4 linked regions of the Homo sapiens genome follow. The protein of the gene in region 2 interacts with the protein of the main gene of each other region in a biochemical or structural test. Each region holds a gene or a part of one and is shown on either strand. Other genes may lie near its edges.

Region 1 (5,557 bases), on a different chromosome or scaffold from region 2:
AATAATATATAATAATAATGTGTATAGTAATAGTAACCTAGCATACACATATATGTGGCAGGCTTTGTTCTAAGCACTTTATACTTATTGACTCAATTAATCTTCATAATATCCCTTGGAAGTAAGTACTCTTATTATCACTGTTTTACAGATGAGAAAGTGGAGGCACAGAACAATTCAGTAATTTGTCTCAGTTCATACTGCTAGAAAATGGCAAACTCAAGGGATTCTGAATTCAGAGTCTATAATTGCTACAGTATACAGTGTCTGGTTTTCTCTCTCTCTCTCTCTCTTTTTTTTTTTTTTTTTTTTGAGAGAGACAGAATCTCGCTCTGTCACCCAGGCTGGAGTGCAGTGGTGCAATCTCGGCTCACTGCAACCTCTGCCTCCCAGGTTCAAGCGATCCTCACACCTCAGCCTCCCAAGTAGCTGGGACTACAAGCCCGGGGCACCATGCCCAGCTAATATTTTGTATTTTTAGTAGAGGCAGGGTTTTGCTATGTTGGCCAGGCCAGTCTTGAACTCCTGACCTCAAGTGATCTGCCCGCCTAGGCCTCCCAAAGTGCTAGGATTACAGGTGTGAGCCACTGCACCTGGCCCGATTTCTCTTTTTTCTTTTGTACAAAAAATGTCATGCTCCCTAACTTACTGTCCATGTTTGAGGTTCCCAAAGAAGCTGAGGGGCAATATGCAACTCGTACCACCTGCTGCTTCATAACTGTGGATCTTTTTCCAGAATCTCTCCTCAGGTTTCTAAGACCAGAACCCAAGTCTCCCCATTCCCAGTCTTCCTACTTGATCATTTTAAGACGCATTTCCTCTGAATGTCCTCTGCCTGATACGTTGAGATTTCTAGAATCCTGTTGTAATGATCCTGACTTAATATATGAAGTAAAATCCAATGAGATTGTAACAGCCTTTATTTAAGCACTACCTTTTAGGTAGGCTACCATTGCAAACTTCGCATCACTAAAAATTGGAGGGGAAAAAAAAGAGCTCTGAGTATTCTATGTTTAGTCTTTGAAAAAAATTATACCACATCTGTTGTTAAAAATTATTTGCATTTTCCTTATCTTTTGTGTAATGCTTTTCAAGAAAAAACATTTTGCAGAGTCTGAACTCGAGTCAAGCTGTTGGGTTCCAACATTGGCTTTACCACTTTCTAGCTGTGTGACCTTGGGAAAGTCAACCAACTTTGCATAGCTCAGATGGCTTATCTGCAAAATTGACAAGATAATAAGAGAATTTACCCAATGACATCTTGTAAGCATAAAGAGATAAAATATGCCAAGTGCTTAGCATGGTGTAAAGCATATAGACAGTGAAAATAAACTAGAAAATAATCTAAAAATACAATATTTTTATTATATTTATCAACCCTTAAAGTAACATATTGTTTTGCTTCCTATTCCTATTTCCATTTCCAATTTTCAAATATACAAAGGAAAGTCTTCTTTAAGCATTTTTCACTAACAGTTCTCTGAAGACTTCTCAGACCCTAGCATGTGATTGGAAGATTTTTTCTTTTTTTTTTTTTTTTTTGAGAAAATCGTATTGGCCTTAAACAAAGTTGTATTCTGTTTACTAATTAAAAAAACTTATTTTTCAAAAATAGAAATGGGGTCTCACTGTGTTGCCCAGGCTGGTCTTGAACTCTTGGCCTCAAATGATCCTCCTACCTCTGCTTCCCAAAGTGCTGACATTATAGGCAGGAGCCACCTTACCTGGTCCAACATTATATTCTTTAATCCAATAAAAATGTGGTAATGTTTTTAAGAGTTAGTATCAGCTTTTATGACAATTACATCTTCACATGAAGTTTATATGTTTAAAAGGATTGTGGGGGCAATAGCAAACTTGTATCGTTTTTATTCCATCACAACTCTGGAACCTCACTGCTGCTTTAATTTCACAGTTGTTGGCTTCTCTTTCTCTACTTGAAAAAGTTTCTCTTTACCAGTCTTCATAAGACTTCTGCCTGAACTCCCTTCAGTCATGCACCTGTCTCATTTTAATAGAAACTCAGACTTTTTACAGCTAGAGGGAACCTTAGATATCAACTGGTCTGCTTGCATTTTTTTTTTCTTACAGATAAGCAATTAGCCCAGGAGGGAGAAGAAAGGGGCTGAGAGGATGAAAGGGAAGGCGGTTAATAGGTTTCTTGCCTAAGGACATCTAGCCTGTGACAGAGCTAAGATATAAATTTGCAGTGGACCATTTTTTAGATTCATGCCTTCTGAATGTCCCCAGCCTGTTTGGTTGGTTGAGATTTCTAGATTCCTTTTGGAATCCTGACTTGCCAGATAAGGCACAGTCTGATAAGCAGATGAATCTTAAAAACAATTGGATGGGTTACCTGTCCCTGGCCAAAGAGGAATCCTGTGATAGGTTATTACAACCATGTACCATGCGCTTTCAGCTTGGTCCAGAACTGATGCCATGTCAGTGCCCCTACTCCCAAAGACCATACCTCCAGATCCATTTTTCAAATTCTTGAGCCATCAAAGCGCATTCCTGAAGATCTTTGGGTTTTGTAGTGCAGGCTGCTGTAAGACTAGGTTTTCAGTCTTACTAAAGGTAATTATTAGGTCATAATCATTGTTCATGTTCTCTAGTCAGGCACTGTAAGAACACTGAAAGGTTTTTAAAATATTTAAATTAAAATTTTAAATTATCATTTAAAAATAATGATACCAGGAACCTAGATGTATTTCCTGTGTAATCAGAAGCAAGTGCATTGTCATATTGGCTTTGGAGTTTCTGTTAAGTCCTAGTAGCTAGAACAAGGTAAGTAGAAAGTAGAAGGTGCTGAGCTGGGCGTGGGGGCTCATGCCTGTAATCCCAGCACTTTGGGATGCTGAGGCGGGAGGATCATGAGGTCAGGAGATCGAGACCTGCCTGGCCAACATGGTGAAACCCTGTTTCTATTTAAAACACAAAAATTAGCTGGGCGTGGTGACGCACACCTGTAATCCCAGCTACTCGGGAGGCTGAGGCAGGAGAACTGCTTGAACACAGGAGGCAGGGATTGCAGTGAGCTGAGATTGTGCCACTGCACTCCAGCCTGGGTGACAGAGCAAGAATCTGTCTCAAAAATAAAATAAAATAAAATAAAATAAAATAAAATAAAATAAAATAAAATAAAATAAAAATAAATAAAAAAGAAAAAAAAAAGAAAAGAAAGTAGAAGGTGCTTATGAAAGAGTGTTGAATGGATAGGAAAGGGGTTCTCAAGGTTGACTGCACGAATCTAGAGCAACTAAAAAAATACTAATTGTGAAGCCCTATTCTAGCATGGAAAAAATAAGCTTGATGGAACCTTTGGTATAAATCAAATGGTTCTATCGTATCCTATTAACTTTATAGTCTTGAGTAATTAAAAATTTTTACCACTATTGTGTATTCTGTGAATGTTTATTTTATTTTTTCCATGAATATTTATTAAATATCAACAGTGTGCTGATGAGTCAATAGTATCAATACTACAGAAACATTAAGGAAGATGAGAACTGAAAAGAGGTGTCTACATATCTCGCAATTAAAATGGACTGCAGTTTTGCATTTAAGATTCTGAAATAGTCATTGACTCATTCCTAATAACCCTGCCCAGGATCTCACCAGCATTAGAAAGATTGGAGATGTTTCAGCATCCGAGTTCTGGGATGCTTCTTGATAATGATCAGCTAGTAGTTGTTTTGAAATGTCAAGAGCATTTCTGTGGTTCTTCACATGTTCCTAATGCAAATGTTTCCGAAGTAATTTCTTGACAGTTACAGTGTTTTGAGATGAAGTGGGAAGGGCTTGTGATTTTGAAGTTGGAGGATCTTGGTTTGATTCCTACCTCTGCCATTTATTATCTGGGAAATCCAGTACCACACATGCTGGGTGCTCTGGGGCAGTTTTCTTATCTGTAAAATGGACATATATCTACCTCACGGGGTGGTTATGCAAAGGCAATGAATGTGAAATGTTTAATAAACTGTGAAGTCTCATATAGATTTCCATTCATCATTATTACCCAATACGAGAATTTTACTTTTTCCAAACTTGAGAGGAGGAAGATGTTGCAGTATTTTGGTATCTTCTTTACCGTGGGTCTGAGAATGATGCACCTGTGCATGTTGTTACATCCTTACAGTGGCTACCACAACTTCACATGTTATTCAGTACTGTTATGTTGGTGAATGTCACAAAACTAAGTTAAACTGTCTGAGGCAAAAAAGGAAGGTTATTGAAATACATAGTTGAGGCTGGGTGTGGTGGCTCATGCCTATAAATCTCAGCACTTTGGGAGTCTGAGGTGAGCGGATTGCTTGAGCCTAGGAGTTTGAGACCAGCCTGGGCAACATAGTGAGACTCCATCTCTACAAAAAATACAAAAAATTAGCCAGGAATGGTGGTGTGCCCTTGTGGTCCCAGCTACTTGGGAGGCTGAGGTGAGATGATCGCTTGAGCCCAGGAGGTCGAGGCTACAGTGAGCTGTGATCATGCCACTGCACTCCAGCCTCAGCGACAGAGTGAGACCCTGTCTCAAAGAAAATAAATACATAGTTGAAAAGATACAGATAATTAGGTTGATCCATTTGAGATTGATTTTTTTTCCTATGCAGAAATAGTCAAATATTGGCAATTTCATTTGGTTCAACCTAATATAAAATGGAGGCTCAAACTATGTCAGGCCAATCTTGTCTTTTTTCCGTCTCCTGGCTCTGAGATGACTCCATTCTTAAACATGTTCTCCTTTGATGTAAAGCGGCTGTCAGTGGCTCTGGAGCCACCTCCTATCAGATCACATCCACTGGGAAAGAAAAAGAGTTTTTATCTTAGCTATTCCCAGCAAAAGTTTCAGTTGCATCTCAGGGTCTCTACTTAGGTCATAAACTCATTGGAGAACCAACCACTGAATCCCGGGTCATGATGTGTTCCCATGGCTTAGGCTTGGGCTGTATACTCAGTCTTTGAGATCATGTATGAAGGGGTGGAGTCCAGAGAGAAATGGGGGTAATTATTGGGAGAATGGTGAACAGAGGCTGGGATGCAAAAATAACAGGTGTTCAGTATACCTTATCAGATAAAATTGACTGACGATGTTATTTTCATTTTGTATGTGAAGACACACTTGAAAAAGCTACAGAAATTTCTCAAGAGCTGGCAGCCCTGGGGTAACTTACAGAATTGAAAGGAATAAAGTATTGGAAACATTAAGAAAAAAGACATGGTGATCTGTGCCCATGTGACCATGTTGCAACTTTAAGTTTAGAAGGAGAACAGGAGAAAGAAGGACTTTTAGAAGGTTTATTTGGATCCTAAAGTTTTCTTATTTGGAGCAGAGCTTTGTGATAGACAGGAAAGTTCTGGAAAATGAGCTGAGCGATCAGACTACAGGATCCCTTAAGTCTGGTGCAGTATTTCATTTTTCTGTGAATCTTAGGCTCCTACTCCTTTTCCAATTTACTTCACTCCAATGTTTATGTTCCTAAGAGTTTGTCTGTTTTCCAAGCACTAGTCCTTTGCTATAAGGATGGGGTAGAGAGAAAGAAGCTTAAAGAGTTTGCAG
Region 2 (6,083 bases):
CATGTATCACTTTAATTTTGAATTTTCTTTTATTATTTTGTAAGACACAGAAGTAACCTATACTCATTATAAAATAAGAAGTCAAATACAGGTGAGCAGCCCTAATCCAAAAACCTGAAATCTGAAATGCTCCAAAATCCTAAATGTTTGAGCACCAACATAACAGCACAGGCTGTAAATTCCACACCTGACTCCACATGACAGGTTGTAATCAAAACTTTGTTTCATGCACACAATTATTTAAATTATTGTATAAAATTACCTTGAGGCTATATGTATAAGATATATAAGAAAAAATCAATTTCATTTTTAGACTTGGGTTCCCATCCCCAAGCTATTTCGTTATGCATATGCAAATATTCCAAAATCCAAAAAAATTAGAAATCTGAAACACTTCTGGTCCAAAGCATGTCAGATCAGGCATACTCAACCTGTAATATAAAAGTATGACACTGGGCGTGGTGGCTCGAGCCTGTAATTCCAGCACTTTGGGAGGCTGAGATGGGTGGATCACCTGAGGTCAGGAGTTCAAGACCAGCCTGGCCAACATGTTGAAACCCCGTCTCTACTAAAAATACAAAAATTAGCCGGGCGTGGTGGTGGGCACCTGTAATCCCAGCTACTTGGGAAGCTGAGGCAGGAGAACCGCTTGAACCCAGAATACAGAGGTTGCAGTGAGCTTAGATCATGCCACTGCACTCCAACCTCCAGCCTGGGCGACAGAGTGAGACTCTGTCTCAAAAAAAAAAAGTATGTAAAATAAGAAGTAAAAATCCCTCACCCCATACCATACCCAAAGGTAACCAACCACTATAAACAGCTGGAGCTATAATCAGAACAAAAATTAACACGTATTTAACCTACCACAAACAAACGAATGCTCCCACCCCTTCAGGTCAGGTCCACATGCTCGCCCCCTCCGCACATGCTCTTCCAATACTCTAGGGCTCTTTCTTTTTGGGGTGGCTCTGACATCAGACTGCCTGCCACTTACAAGCTCTGCCACTTACCTAACCTCCCTCTGCCTCAGTTTCTTCATGCAAGTGTGGATAATAACAACGCTCTGTTGATACAGTTATTGGGAGGAGTAAATACTCTTGCACATAGGAAACTCTTAGAATGGTGCCTGGGCGAACTGAGTGCCTTCCAAATGTCAGCGCTTACCACTGTTATTGAGTAACTATCCCGTGCTGAGCAATGGGGATACCAAAGTTTGGGTACAGACCCCCTTTATTTTCTGGGAGCTGACAGTGGCACTGGGGGTCAAGGCGCCTGTGTGTGTGTGCACACACACAGCCCTGCCTACAGGCGGCTCTCCTCAGCCCTTGAAACACTCAACACGTGTTATCTCATCTGATTCTTAGGACCATCCTGAGCAGGGGCCAGTGCTGGCATCTCAGAGGCTCAGAGGGCTTAAGTGCCCAGTGTCAGGGCACACAGGTAAGAAGGGCCAGCCAGGATTCAAACCCAGGCCAGTTGGATCTATGACTCCACCAAAGAGCCACAAGAAAGCACTATCTACCCACCCAGGGTTAAGTGGAGCCTGGCCAAGCACAGTGAGAGGCGGGCCAGGAGAAAGGGCAGCGGGGGCTTTGGGAGCAGCGGGGCAGGCCGGCAGGGCCTGAGACACTGACGCTTATTATTCCCACGCACTGGCCTTGTCTCCGCAGCCAGGCCACCATGTTCTGGAGTGCTGGCCCACACCTCAGCCTCGTGGCCTACTGCCACCCTTGTCCCACATGCCGCAGAGCTGGCCACACATTCACTGGCTGGTGTCTGCTTCCTCAGCTCCTCTCATTAAAGCATCTATGACACCTGGGGAAGCAGGTCGAGGAAGAAAAGCTGCCCACTGGGCCAGAGGCAGGGCTGGGACGTAGAGTGGACTAAACACGCACAGACCTGGGTCCCAGTGTAGCCTTAGTCTCTGACTCTTTTGTAGTCTCCAGATGAGCCACCCTGCCTTTGTTAATCTCAATCACCTCATCTATAAAATGGGCAGGTCACTACCCTCTCTTGGGGCAGTTATGAGGGTTAAAGGAGGGGCCTTGGGAAGACACTCTGGACAGCAGCGAGCCGTAGTGTTGTCTGCTAGTGTGGGGGCTGACACTTGTTGAACACTGACCTGATGTGCTTTTTCTCCTTTCCAGGCAAGAATCAATATTAATTAGCCCACTTAACAGATGGCACCCAGAGAGGACAAAAACCTGCCTGGGTCATGCAGTTAGAAAGTAGTGGAGCTAGGATTTGAACCCAGGTCCCTCTAAGCCCCATGTGCTTCCACTGCAGAGGCCTCCAGGTGGGGAGGCAGTATTTGCATGGAGGCCTCATGCACCATGCCAGGTGGAGTCTCAGACCTCAGTCTAAGGCATTATCAGAGAGCTGCAGCCCTGGAGCCTTCAGGCCTGGCCTCCTCCATCTGGCCCCCTCTGGTCCTTCCAGCTCAGCTCAGGGCCTCAGGGAAGGTTTCTGAGTTTGATGATGCTATTAGAGATCCCCAGGGGTCTCTGCCCACCTGAGGACCTGGGAGCCAGTGACCCCTTGCTCCCAGGAGGGGCTGGCACCACAGCCCAGCTGGAGCCTGGCTGGGGTGGTGCCCCAGGAGAGGGGAAGGCGCCAGTTCTCGAGATGGGGAAACAATGGGGTATGTCTAAGCCTCCCTCTCTAGGCCGGGAGCAGTGACTTCGGCCTCTTCCTCCCCACCAACTAGGGTTCAGAATTATGGGGGAGGTACATCTATTCCTCCTCCACACAACACTCACCCCTCACTTCTCTGAAATGCATCGGGCCTAACACCAGATTGGGGGGTGGGGGTGGTGGAATAGGAGCTCAGGTCAGGGTTCTGGGTATTTACCCCAGCAGGGATCCCCTCGACACCCTCGCTGGCCCTGGCTACTCCAGAGCCGAGCCGACTTCCCTTCCCGCAGCCGGGCCTAGGATTCCCCTGGTTGAGGCTGAGCCTTCAGCGCCTGCCCTGAGAGACACACCTGCCTAGGTCGGTGCTGCCCAATCCAGAGAGGGGCCCGGCCACGCCAGGCCTGGCAGGTAGGCCCATCTGGCCAGGCAGGGCTCGGGGAGGGGCTCAAACATCCTCCTCCCAGCACCAACAATGTCGTTGCCCCAGGAAACTGCGACCCGCGCCCCTCCAGGCTGTTCCCAGCTCTATTCACAGGCTAAGATGCAGCCTGCCTGCCCGCTCCGGGATCGCAACCCCGACCCCAGACCCTGCCGCAGCCCGGAGGTTGGGGAGAAGGAGGCCTCCGAGCCCCCTCCTCCAATTCCAGCGCAGACCTCCCAGCCTAGGACCAGGAATGGCGGAGGGAACAGCCTCGTGAACATGCAACGGCTACCAGTCCGGACTTGAGGCTGGCGGGGCTTCTGAGGGGGGCTCTGTCCCGGGAAGAGACCCCACTCCCACGCAGCCCTTTCGTTCCCGGGTTCCCGAGGTTCTGGGGTGGGGGGCGGGCAGGGCAGCCAATGCGGATCAGTCCCCGCTGAAGGGCGAGGCGCGCGGCGGCCGGGGACTCTCACCTGAAATTGGGAGGCGAAGCGATGTGCAGCCCCAGGAACGGGGAGGCGGCGGGCGGGGACGCGGCCCCCCCTCCCAGGCCGCCGCTTTCTCGCTCCGCCATTCTCGGGCACAGCCCTGGCCATCCGGGCGGAGCGCGGCGCGGAGGAGGCGGCGGCTGCGAAGGAGGCGGAGGCGCGGCGAGAGGGCAGCCGCCGCCGCGGAGTTCGGGCTAGGCGGGCGCACCTGTGTCTGGCAGGGCGCGGCACAGCACCGCGCACGGCCCGCGGGACTGGCGAGAGCGCCCCGCGCGCGCCCCCGGGACCCGGCCGGGGTCTCGCGCGCCCCGCCCAGGCCCCGCCCCCACCCCGCCAGCCCCGCCCCCGGAGATGGCGCTCTCCGCGGTGCTGAAGCCACGGCCCCCGCGGCCCTGGGCTTGGTTCAGCCCCGCCCTAAATCCGACATCGACTCTCCTCCACCCCGTGGCCGGTGTGGGCTTTGTCCCTCCGGTTGGGCTTAGTGCCCGGGTATCAGATGACTAATGGCAGGACACTGGACCCCAAGGTCCAGGTTGGCCCCCCGCAGCAGAGACCAAGAAGGCAGGCGGAAAAGGAGGGTCGTGGAGGAAGGCAGAGAAAGGAGAGGATGTCAGTGGGCTCTTAAAGTGTACAGGTTTGGAGTCAGGTGGTGTGAATTCACTGGCTCCACAAGTGACTGGGCAGTGGGGCCTTGCATTAGTGACTTCAGAGCACTAAGGTTTGGTCTTCTTATCTGTGAAATGGGACAATAGCAGTCCCTCTCATGGTTGTTGTGAGAATGTAACGTAACACAAATGTGTTGCCTGAGACCCAGAAACACTCCACCTCCTGCGCTGGGATCCAGCCCTCACCCCAGTCCTGTCCCTTTACCTTGAGGGGACCCTCCCAAAGACTCTCCCTAGAGGCTGTCTTCTCTAAAGATTGACCCAAATCTCTCTTCAGCCCCAAACAGCTACTCGTGGTGAATTGAGCCCTCCAGGCTTCTCGGTCTCTCGCCAGGACCTTCCCAGCATTCTCCTTCTTAGCGCCTCAACTGCATTTCCTGCAGAGCACCCCTCTTCTGCACCCACAGACACACATTCTAAGACTTGGCGCCTTTCCCTCTCCTCCCACTGTTGACTTCTTGGGATCATTTTGGTTGTTTCTGTTCCCTCTGGCACCTCCATCCCTGCTAGGCTTTGGCCATGGCTTCTTCCTCATTGTCTCTCCCTCGAGAGGGTGTTATTCCTGGGCTTCCAGGCCTTCAAGTCCCTGAGTTTCCCGATTGAGTTATTTCAGAGTACGGACTGCCAAGGCTAGGGCCTTAGCTTTGCTGGGTCGTAGAGCCTCTGGTCAAACCTCATTGGCTTCTCTGGTCTCTCGAGAGAACCCTAGAGACCCTGTCCACAGGGCAGAAAACGTGCAGAGCAAACTGTGCCACAACTCGTGGAGTCCTATTTGCAAATCTGGACTGCCGACCAGTCATGCTGGCCCCTTTCCTTCAGTGCGGCACCTAGCAAGGAGCTGGAGGCACCTTCCGTGCAGAAGGCAACCTCCGACCACCAGCCCTGAGAATATCCCAATACCTAGAGCCAAAGGTCATGGCTGCTTCTCTTTTCCCTGTCCCTGGGGCCCAGAGGGGTGGCCACTACTTTCTCAGCTTTCGTGATCAGGCCCCTTTCACTGGGCCCTCACGGTAATCATCTGCTGCCATGGTGCCTGGCTTTTCCTCTCAGGAAAGCAGTCTTGCCATCATGGCTACTAATCGTTCCTTAGAATGTAGACCTGCCTCAGCTAGGGAACATCCTTAGCAGGTCAGGGGTGGATGTAAAGGACAACTCCCTCTTCCAGAACCTTTTGCTCAAGAGCAAAGTTATCTTAGCTCCAAAGACCAACCCAAAGCCATTATTAGAGAGAAGCCAGAAGGGCAAGAAGGAAAGGCAGGCCCAGGTCTTGGTATGAGGGAGGCCAGCAGGAGCTTCAGAGCAGAGCCAAGAATGAGACAAGTTCCCAAGGCAGGTTCCTCCCCTTTTCTCCTTCTTCACTCTGTGCAGGCCAGACTGTGATATTCTTGGGCCTTGCCTGGGCCCCTTCCCAGAAAGTTGGGGTGTGAGCTAATAAAGCTTTCAGTCCAAGGCTAGCATCCCCTAGCATGGAAGCAGGGCACACTGCACAGAGAGGGGCCATTCTCTGGCCAGGAGACAAAGCCAGCATCCAGGCGCCCTAGGCTTGGCTGTGGGCAGATCTCAACCACCTAGTCACAGCCAGAGAGCCTGCATCCCCTCCTCACCACAGGCTGCAGCTTAAGTGGCTGCATTGAATTAAAGGATGGATTGAGGGCGTGGAGCAGGCCCTGCACTGACTGACCCCCAGCCTGGGAGGGGGTTTAAGTGGGCTGCAAGGCTGGGTGGCACTGCAGGATGGCACTTAGGACCCTCACTCTGGGCCAGAGTGCTCTGTACTATTTTGGCCAATTGACCCCCAACTCTTGACCAAGCTCTGGACCAACTCTTGACCAAGCTGCTCCAGTCTGCTCTGGCTGCTCCCCCTTCCTAAGGAGG
Region 3 (4,747 bases), on a different chromosome or scaffold from region 2:
CCCCGCTACACGGGTGACAAGTGTGAACTGGACCAGTGCTGGGAGCACTGTCGCAATGGGGGCACCTGTGCTGCCTCCCCCTCTGGTATGCCCCCTCATCCCGCCACGCCTGCTCCTTGCCCCTGGGCCCCAGCCCCGCCACCCACCACCCCACCTCAGGCAAATGCCCAGCCCCTGCCTCGCCTCCAGCCTCCTTTCCACAACCCAGCATCCAGTCACTCCAGTCTCTGCTTCTCGCCCAGGTCCCCCCAGCCCATTCCTCTGCTATAGGGCCAGGTGGTCTCGAGGGCCACAGTCGCGCTCACACATCCTCTCCCACCAGGCATGCCCACGTGCCGGTGCCCCACGGGCTTCACGGGCCCCAAATGCACCCAGCAGGTGTGTGCGGGCTACTGTGCCAACAACAGCACCTGCACTGTCAACCAGGGCAACCAGCCCCAGTGCCGATGCCTACCCGGCTTCCTGGGCGACCGCTGCCAGTACCGTGAGTGAGCCATCCCTGGGCCCCAGGGCATGCGGGAGGGTGACGGGGGACCCCAGAGCATGGGGTGATGTTCAACCTGTGCCTGGGACCCACAGGGGCAAGTTCAGGAAAGAAGGCCTTATGCAGCTGAGCCAGGCCCAAGCTGCTGGCGCTTCCCCACAAAGGTGCTGGCACACTTCCCCTGAGGCAGTGCACCCCCTGCACCAAGATTATGCAAACAGAAAAGCTCTGTTCAACCTATGGAGAGCCCTCATGAGGGTGGGGCTTGAGGCACTTCTCTCCCTCCCCAACCACAGGGCAGTGCTCTGGCTACTGTGAGAACTTTGGCACATGCCAGATGGCTGCTGATGGCTCCCGACAATGCCGCTGCACTGCCTACTTTGAGGGATCGAGGTGTGAGGTGAACAAGTGCAGCCGCTGTCTCGAAGGGGCCTGTGTGGTCAACAAGCAGAGTGGGGATGTCACCTGCAAGTGAGTGGGGCCCTCCTCCACAGTTCCACCCAGCTGGGCCCCTGCCCTGTCCTAGCCCTGCCCTGCCCCTCCCTTCCTCAGCATCCCAGGCACGCCTCTGCCAGCCCCAGCCCCAGCCTCTGATTCCTTCCTGCAGCTGCACGGATGGCCGGGTGGCCCCCAGCTGTCTGACCTGCGTCGGCCACTGCAGCAATGGCGGCTCCTGTACCATGAACAGCAAAATGATGCCTGAGTGCCAGTGAGTTGGGCCCGGGCTTCACCCAGGCATAGATCATCGCTCCCTTCCCCAGATTTGAGCAGGAGGACCGTCAGGCCTCAGTGCCCACCCCCCGCCCTGTTTTCCTGGCAGCAGTGGCTATGGAGGTTATACCTACTCAGCCGTGTCCCTCCTTTCTGCAGGTGCCCACCCCACATGACAGGGCCCCGGTGTGAGGAGCACGTCTTCAGCCAGCAGCAGCCAGGACGTAGGTGGCAGGGGTTGGGGCAGGCAGGGCCACCGGGACCTAGAGCAGGGGGACCGTGTGCCTCCTGCTTCCCTGAGCCTTGGTGACTCAGTGTCCCACCTCTTCCCTCCAGATATAGCCTCCATCCTAATCCCTCTGCTGTTGCTGCTGCTGCTGGTTCTGGTGGCCGGAGTGGTATTCTGGTATAAGCGGCGAGTCCAAGGGTGAGTCACAGGGATTCTGGAACATTCTGGTCATTATTTTGCCATCCTAGCCTTCCCCCCCAATAATCTCTGTCTCCTTATACTCCTGCCTTTCCCCAGGGCTAAGGGCTTCCAGCACCAACGGATGACCAACGGGGCCATGAACGTGGAGATTGGAAACCCCACCTACAAGATGTACGAAGGCGGAGAGCCTGATGATGTGGGAGGCCTACTGGACGCTGACTTTGCCCTGGACCCTGACAAGGTGGGCTGGGAGGCGGGCAGGGTCGAGTGCCAAGAGGCCGTGGGTGGCCTAACCAAAGGTGTTGGGTTAGGTGAGGGACGGAGGTGGGGGTGGGGTAACCTGGGCTACAGGCCCAGCTCCTGAGCCCTACCTGAACCCTCTGTCACCCTGCAGCCCACCAACTTCACCAACCCCGTGTATGCCACACTCTACATGGGGGGCCATGGCAGTCGCCACTCCCTGGCCAGCACGGACGAGAAGCGAGAACTCCTGGGCCGGGGCCCTGAGGACGAGATAGGGGACCCCTTGGCATAGGGCCCTGCCCCGTCGGACTGCCCCCAGAAAGCCTCCTGCCCCCTGCCAGTGAAGTCCTTCAGTGAGCCCCTCCCCAGCCAGCCCTTCCCTGGCCCCGCCGGATGTATAAATGTAAAAATGAAGGAATTACATTTTATATGTGAGCGAGCAAGCCGGCAAGCGAGCACAGTATTATTTCTCCATCCCCTCCCTGCCTGCTCCTTGGCACCCCCATGCTGCCTTCAGGGAGACAGGCAGGGAGGGCTTGGGGCTGCACCTCCTACCCTCCCACCAGAACGCACCCCACTGGGAGAGCTGGTGGTGCAGCCTTCCCCTCCCTGTATAAGACACTTTGCCAAGGCTCTCCCCTCTCGCCCCATCCCTGCTTGCCCGCTCCCACAGCTTCCTGAGGGCTAATTCTGGGAAGGGAGAGTTCTTTGCTGCCCCTGTCTGGAAGACGTGGCTCTGGGTGAGGTAGGCGGGAAAGGATGGAGTGTTTTAGTTCTTGGGGGAGGCCACCCCAAACCCCAGCCCCAACTCCAGGGGCACCTATGAGATGGCCATGCTCAACCCCCCTCCCAGACAGGCCCTCCCTGTCTCCAGGGCCCCCACCGAGGTTCCCAGGGCTGGAGACTTCCTCTGGTAAACATTCCTCCAGCCTCCCCTCCCCTGGGGACGCCAAGGAGGTGGGCCACACCCAGGAAGGGAAAGCGGGCAGCCCCGTTTTGGGGACGTGAACGTTTTAATAATTTTTGCTGAATTCCTTTACAACTAAATAACACAGATATTGTTATAAATAAAATTGTAAAAAAAAAAAAAAAAAAAAAGGCCAAAAAAAAAAAAAAGAAAGAAAAAAAGCCGCTGGTGTCTGCCTGTGTGTGAGAGACGCTGGGAGCTGGGGCTGCGCTTTCCTGCTTCGGCCACCAGAGGGAGACCTGCCCCGTGCTGGAGGCAGGCTGGCGCGTGGTTTTTAGTGCCCTTCTCCCAGGGCCCTCCCCCTCTCCATCTTACTGTGCCCGGGAAGCGGGTGGCACTGGACTTGACATGGAAGATCTGCTTCTCCTGGCTGTGTGACCTTCAGCCATGACTTCGAGTCTCCAGATTTTGTGTTCCCTCTGGGTCTAGGACACTAACTCAGATCTGTTTCTCTGCATTCACTTCTACCAGACACCACCCCCCTACCCAAAATGATCACCCACAGTGAGAAGCCCCACTATAAGAAGTGAATACACTGAGGCTGCAAAGGTTTTCTCATCCTTCAGGGTCCTCCCATGCGGTTCTCTCTGCCTGAGTCTGCTCTTGAAGCACTGACGTCTCACTTTGTGGAGACTAATGAATCAAATGCGAAGTAAAATGCTGCATTCCAGAGCCAGGTGTCTCCTGCGGTAAAGGAGAGCTGGGAAGACCAGTTTGCCAGGCCCTCTAGGCCCCCAGCAGCTCCAGCTCACCAATCATTTCAGTCATTCCAGGGGGTAACAGGAAAAAACTGTCAATCAAAAGTGTCCAGGTCCATTTCAACCCCTGCCTAGAGGGGGAAACTTCTTGCAGAAAGTTGCACAGTTTACACTGCCCAGGACTAGAGAGGGTTTGAGTCCCAGTACAGCAAATATGAGCTCAGGAAGGGTGGCTGCAAATGTCTGAAGATCCCTTACCCAACTCCCAACCAGGAAGTGCTGCCTTTCATTCCTCCTCCCTCACTGGTTCAACTCCAGGAGATTCCTCCCAGGCTTCCTTCTGCCTTGGGGAAGCTACAAGTCTAGGCACCTGTGGAAAGAGGAGCCCTCCCCTTCCCTTCTTAGCCTTCAGAAGCTCTCTCCAACCTCATCCTCCAAGCCAACTCTGAGATCCTCCCCTGCCTTCAAAAGGGCCCTGGATGGGCAACTGCGGGGAAACAGAATCCGTGGTTGCCGAGTAGGAGGTCTGTGTCCCAATCTGGCCACCAGGTGGTGTCTGTACGCCTGGAGCACCGCCTATCCTGAAGCCCCACACAGCCCCCGCCTCAGCACTCATTATGCACCTGCGGGGGACCCCAGCCCAGTCTCTCGCTTCCTTCTCTCCGGCTATTTTGCCACACCCCTCCACCCTCTGCCAGCCAGCTCCCCTCCCTGCCCCAGCGCCTGCCTGCTCCCACCACCACCAGCCCCAACCCTGCCCCTCTGCCATCGGTGCATCTGGTGCCCCCCGGGAGCCACTGATCTCTGCCTGTCACCTCAAGATCCTGGGCAGAGCGACAAGGGACCCCCGCTGCAGCTTGGAAGGCATACCCCTCCAGTCAGCATCCCCCACTCCGCCTGTCAGGACCTGCTAGGAGAAGGTCCACCAGGAGGCAGTTTCTCAAACTACCCACCCGGGAGGCAGGTGGGAAGCCCTCACCTTGGCCTGAGAGATGGGAAGAACCAGGGACAGAGGCTGAGAACCAGGGACAGAAGCTGATACCGAATGAGAGGCAGAAACCCAGAGGCGGAGAGACAGGGGGACAGAGGCAAAGACCCAGAGACAGGGCGAGTAGTGTGCATGTGTGTGTTTGCACTTGTGTTTGTGCGAGCGCGCACACATGTGTGTGTGTAACTGGAGAGAGAACAGGTGGCCTGAGACTGTAGCTAAAGGA
Region 4 (4,928 bases), on a different chromosome or scaffold from region 2:
GTCTCCCTGTTTGGCAAATGGGCTAGCTTGTGGATCTGGAGTGTTGTGTCAATGGAGCCTAAGGCTGTTTGGAGAACCTAGAAAGAAAATTCATCAGCTTCTCAGTCTTGGTAACAAATAAATAGAAGGCAAGAGAGAATGGGAGGGAAATGACGTCAAAAGTAGAAAGAAATTTATGGATAAGGAAACCGAGAAATTACGATTACAGAAGGATCGATTCCATTGTTGGCATTATTGTCTTCATCAAGGCCGTGCATCCTGCAGGGTGAAAACAGAAGAAATGAAGTGCTAAGGAATATAAAAGAGTGGAAATGACATTTGTTGGACACTTTTATAGTCTGTAAATGGATAACTTGTGCCTCTGTTTGACACTTTGGCTTAAAACTGAATGGCTTATTTATTTAATCGGTGGAGACTGTGCAAATCCATGTATTAGAATAACTTACAATGCTGGTTGCTGAGCCTGAAAAGGTGTGAATTTACTTTTTAGTTTTCAAAGTTACGGCCAGGTGGGGTGACTCACTTCTGTAATCCCAGCACTTTGGGAGGCCAAGATGGGAGGATCACTTGAGCCTAGGAGTTTGAGTTCAGCCTAGGCAACATAGTGAGACCCCCATCTCTACAAAAATTACAAAAAAATTAGCTATGTGTGATGGCGCATGCCTGCAGTCCCCAGGACTACAGGGAGGCTGAGGTGGGAGGATTGATTGAGCCTGGGAGGTTGAGGCTGCAGTGAGCCATGATTGTGCCACTGCACTCCAACCTGGACAATGGAGCACAACTGTCTCTAAAAAAAAAAGAAAAAGTTTTGAAGTTATATGATGTGGCATTCAACCTTCTATCTGGGTTGTAAGGTTCCCAGGCAAGACATCAGCTATTAATTAAACACACTATTTTGACTGGGGGCAGAAATGCTCCTGTCTTGCATGATCTATCAATTTATTGATGGTTCAGGGACCTTAACTTACTGATGGACTTTTGCTTTATTGTTACTTTAGGAAAGTGTTAAGTATAAGGTGATAGTAATAGCAACTCGAGCCTCGCTCTGGTCTAAGTGCTTTGTGTGTATGAACTTACTTAAGTCTCACAACTCTTATGGGATATGTGCTATCCTGGCCCCTCTTTCATAGGTTGGATTGAGAGGCTTGCCAAAGGTCCCATGACTAGTACAGAGGGCACCTGGGATCTAAGCTCAGGGAGTCTTGTTTCCAGCTCAATCTCTTATCTTCTAGGTTAGCTGGATGGGGGTAATGTTGATGGGGAGCTTCAGATAATTTGAGGATTTTGGAGTCTGAACTGTCTGGGTAACTGTGGTTGTATGGAACTGGCCTTGGCATACCACTATCTATATTTGTCCCCTCTCTTTCCTCCCAATTCCCATGCTGCCTTTTCCATGAAGGTGTCTGCTTAAATTATCTCCCATCCCTCCCCAGTATGAAGACCACCTGCTTGCCCATGTTTGGCTACAAACACGTGCTGACGCTAACTGACCAGGTGACCCGCTTCAATGAGGAAGTGAAGAAGCAGAGTGTGTCACGGAACCGAGATGCCCCAGAGGGTGGCTTTGATGCCATCATGCAGGCTACAGTCTGTGATGTGAGTTTGGAGGACTTGGAGTGCCAGGTGTGGCTGGCATAGATCAAAATGGGAAAGGAAGTGACTGAACTCTGGGGATTTCTGGTGTAAAATGAGATGAGAACTAAGCAGGGCTTCCTGCAGTTATGAGTAGTAAGTTGCTCCTGATATTCAGCCTTGGCTTAGATCCACTCCCTGGCCTGAGCTGACATTTCTTTGAACCTCAGTGGTCTCAGATGTTCCCAGGGGAGAGCATCTTCCCATCTTCAGAGTTACTTCAGAGTTAAGGCTGAGTTAACTTAACCTCAGCAAAGTAGGCAGATGTTCAGATGAGATTTCTTCTAGCCCAGATCAGCTCTGTGGATGCACGTCAGTTTCTAGATGAGCAATGTGACTGTCATTAGAAGAGTTAAGTTTGGAGTTTAAGAAGATCTCATTCAGCTGCTTGAACTAATCAGCTATGAGACTGTTTTCTGAAGAGAATGAAACTCCTGAACTGGAAAGCTTCAGCTTCGGTTCCAAGGACTGGGACTGAGACCCTTGTTTTGAAGAAAAATAAGCTGTCCAGCCCTTTAGCCAGGGAGCACCTTGGGTCTCTGTTCTCTACCAGTGACATGGCTGAATTTGTTTTGTCTCCTCTGCCTTTGTTTTTTGTTTTCTTTTAACAGGAAAAGATTGGCTGGAGGAATGATGCATCCCACTTGCTGGTGTTTACCACTGATGCCAAGACTCATATAGCATTGGACGGAAGGCTGGCAGGCATTGTCCAGCCTAATGACGGGCAGTGTCATGTTGGTAGTGACAATCATTACTCTGCCTCCACTACCATGGTGAGATCTCTGGCACCACCTATGGTTTCTATTCATGATTGTGAGGGTTGCCCTAATCTAGGCAGAGTCTGTGTGAATATGAAAATGGCAGCCCCTCCTTCTGGGCAGGGTGCAGGGCTCGGTTCCAGCTTGCCCCTATCCCTTACCAACTGGACACCGTCATCCAGCATACAACCTATATAACCATTAGAGATGTCCCTGATTGTGGTGTTATCACTGCCTTCACTGTCACCAGCATAGCAGCAGCATCATGGGATCCAGAATGGACCCAAAGGATTTTTACAACCCAGCTGGAAAGCAGGTCTTCCTCTCCACTCTGATTAGCCCTTTCTTGGAATACCATACTAACTTGTGGTTATTGGAAGAAGACAGAGGAAAAAAAAGAGAAAGATTGGCCAGGCATATGATGGCTCATGCCTGTAATCTCAGCACTTTGGGAGGCTGAGGTGGGAGGATCACGTGAGTCCAGGAGTTTGAAACCAGCTTGGGAAATATAGTGAGACCCTGCCTCTACAAGAAAATGCAAAAATTCGTTGAGTGTTGTGGTTTGTGCCTATGGTCCCAGCTACTTGTGGGGCTGAGGCAGAAAGATCTCTTGAGCCCAGTAGTCTGAGGCTGCAGTGAGCTGTGATCTTGCCACTACACTCCAGCCTGAGTGACAGAGCAAGAACCACCCCTGCTTTTTTTTTTTTTTTTTTTTTTTTTTTTTTTTGATACAGAGTCTTGCTTTGTTGCCCAGCTGGAGTGCAGTAGTGCAATCTTGGCTCACAAGCTTCACCACCTCAGTCTCCTGAATAGCTGGGACCACAGGCATGCACTACCATGCCCAGCTAATTTTTGAAAACAGGGTCTTTCTATGTTGCCCAGGCTGGTCTCAAACTCCTTGGCTTAAGCAATCTGCCCTCTTAAGCCTCCCAAAGTGCTGGGATTACAGGTGTGAGCCATTGCTCCTAGTGGAGACCCCTTCTCTTAGAAAGAGAGAGAGAGAGAGAGAGAGAGAGAGAGAGAGAAAGAGGGGAAAGAACATAAAAGGCATGGTGAACAGGTCCTACGAGGAAAGATTAAAGGGCCAGAGTCATTTAGCTTGAAAGAAAGAAGGCTAAAGGATGATTTAGCTTATACATGAGAAAACTTCTTATAAGTTGTTTTATATGGCCATAGAAGGTTAAACAAGAGGAAAATATTTAAATTGAATCAGGAGAAATTACTATAAGCCATAAGAGAAATGTGCTGTAATGCTCTAGGTATCTGGGGCAGGTGTGAACTCTTCGTCTCCTAAGGACAATATAGCAACTTCCTCATCTAGGTGACTTAAAGGTGTACCTGTGTAAAGGCAGGAGACTGAGCTGAGGATCTAATGAGCTCCCTGCAAGGTCTAGGATCCCATGGACATGTTCACGATTCACCACCGCCCCCGCACAGTGTCCTTGAGTTCCTTGGTGTCAGCCATATCCAAGTCAAGCACTACCAGACAATGAGTCAGCAACATTTGACCCCTAATCTATGCAAGGCACTGGGCCAGGGGCTGAGGGAGGTAACAAGACTATGTATGGTTCTATCCTTGGGGAGTTTTTGGTCTACTTGAGGAGAAAGGATATATATATTTACAATAACACAAGATGCATGATTAGTGCCAAATGGGTGTGGCACAGCCAATGTGGCTATACGTATCCAAGGGAGGAAAGGTCATCATGAGCTGGGATGGCCAAGGAAGTCTCCTGAAGAAGGTGGGGGCTAAGCTAGGCCCTAAGAAAGGAGGAGGATTACCAACAAGAAGGCCACTCCAGGTGGGAGACAGTGGGCCAGATCACTGCTGAGTGGAAGAGGGAGAGAGGTGAGCAATATTTGGAAAGAAAGACTGAGACCACACGGTGGAGGATCACGAGGGCCAGGCCAAGGCATTTGTCAGTAGTTCCAAAACAGAGGCCTAACCCAGTCCCTTGTGCACGGAAGCAGCTCCATAGTATTAGTGCATTAAATTCAAGCAGGAAGAAAGAGGTGCTTAGTTTTGACACCACTGGCCTGTACCTCTTCGTCTATCCCTGGAGTTCACAAGTAGACTTCTGTGCTACTTACCCTTCTTATCTCACTGTCACCCCCCTTTTTTTTTTAGAGACAGAGTCTTGCTCTGCTGCCCAGGCTGGAGTGCAGTGGTGCAATCATAGCTCACTGTAACCTCCAACTCCTGGGCTGAAGTGATCCTGCCTCAGCCTCCCCAGTAGCTAGGACTATAGGCACTTACCACCACATCTGGCAAATAAAAAAAATTTTTTTGTAGAGATGGGGTCTTGCTATGTTGCCCAGGCTCTTGTCTCACTTTCAGCATGAAGTGAAATGGTTTAAGCACCACCACACTCTGAGCCACAGCCCAAGCAAGATAAGTTCTAAGCTTTAGACCCTAGAGATGTACATGAGACGTCATTAACCTCTACATCCTTCATTTTCCTAGGATTATCCCTCTTTGGGGCTGATGACTGAGAAGCTATCCCAGAAAAACATCAATTTGATCTTTGCAGTGACTGA

What was found.
Region 1: the proteins of MAPK8IP1 (region 2) and LRP2 form a complex in vitro, tested with the Homo sapiens proteins (one study listed by BioGRID).
Region 3: the proteins of MAPK8IP1 (region 2) and LRP1 form a complex in vitro, tested with the Homo sapiens proteins (one study listed by BioGRID).
Region 4: the proteins of MAPK8IP1 (region 2) and ITGB3 form a complex in vitro, tested with the Homo sapiens proteins (one study listed by IntAct).

Annotation. Positions count from the first base shown.
Region 1 is NC_000002.12:169,354,884-169,360,440, reverse strand, and holds part of LRP2 (low-density lipoprotein receptor-related protein 2 precursor), read left to right. Parts: intron 1-5,557. UniProt on the Homo sapiens protein: Multiligand endocytic receptor. Acts together with CUBN to mediate endocytosis of high-density lipoproteins. Mediates receptor-mediated uptake of polybasic drugs such as aprotinin, aminoglycosides and polymyxin B.
Region 2 is NC_000011.10:45,883,367-45,889,449, reverse strand, and holds the start of MAPK8IP1 (C-Jun-amino-terminal kinase-interacting protein 1), read right to left. Parts: upstream 3,800-6,083; 5' UTR 3,630-3,799; coding exon 3,529-3,629; intron 1-3,528. UniProt on the Homo sapiens protein: The JNK-interacting protein (JIP) group of scaffold proteins selectively mediates JNK signaling by aggregating specific components of the MAPK cascade to form a functional JNK signaling module. Required for JNK activation in response to excitotoxic stress.
Region 3 is NC_000012.12:57,210,396-57,215,142, forward strand, and holds the end of LRP1 (prolow-density lipoprotein receptor-related protein 1 preproprotein), read left to right. Parts: coding exon 1-85; intron 86-322; coding exon 323-484; intron 485-780; coding exon 781-955; intron 956-1,091; coding exon 1,092-1,193; intron 1,194-1,354; coding exon 1,355-1,419; intron 1,420-1,531; coding exon 1,532-1,622; intron 1,623-1,721; coding exon 1,722-1,866; intron 1,867-2,019; coding exon 2,020-2,160; 3' UTR 2,161-2,966; downstream 2,967-4,747. UniProt on the Homo sapiens protein: Endocytic receptor involved in endocytosis and in phagocytosis of apoptotic cells. Required for early embryonic development. Involved in cellular lipid homeostasis.
Region 4 is NC_000017.11:47,284,827-47,289,754, forward strand, and holds part of ITGB3 (integrin beta-3 precursor), read left to right. Parts: intron 1-1,433; coding exon 1,434-1,596; intron 1,597-2,243; coding exon 2,244-2,405; intron 2,406-4,854; coding exon 4,855-4,928. UniProt on the Homo sapiens protein: Integrin alpha-V/beta-3 (ITGAV:ITGB3) is a receptor for cytotactin, fibronectin, laminin, matrix metalloproteinase-2, osteopontin, osteomodulin, prothrombin, thrombospondin, vitronectin and von Willebrand factor.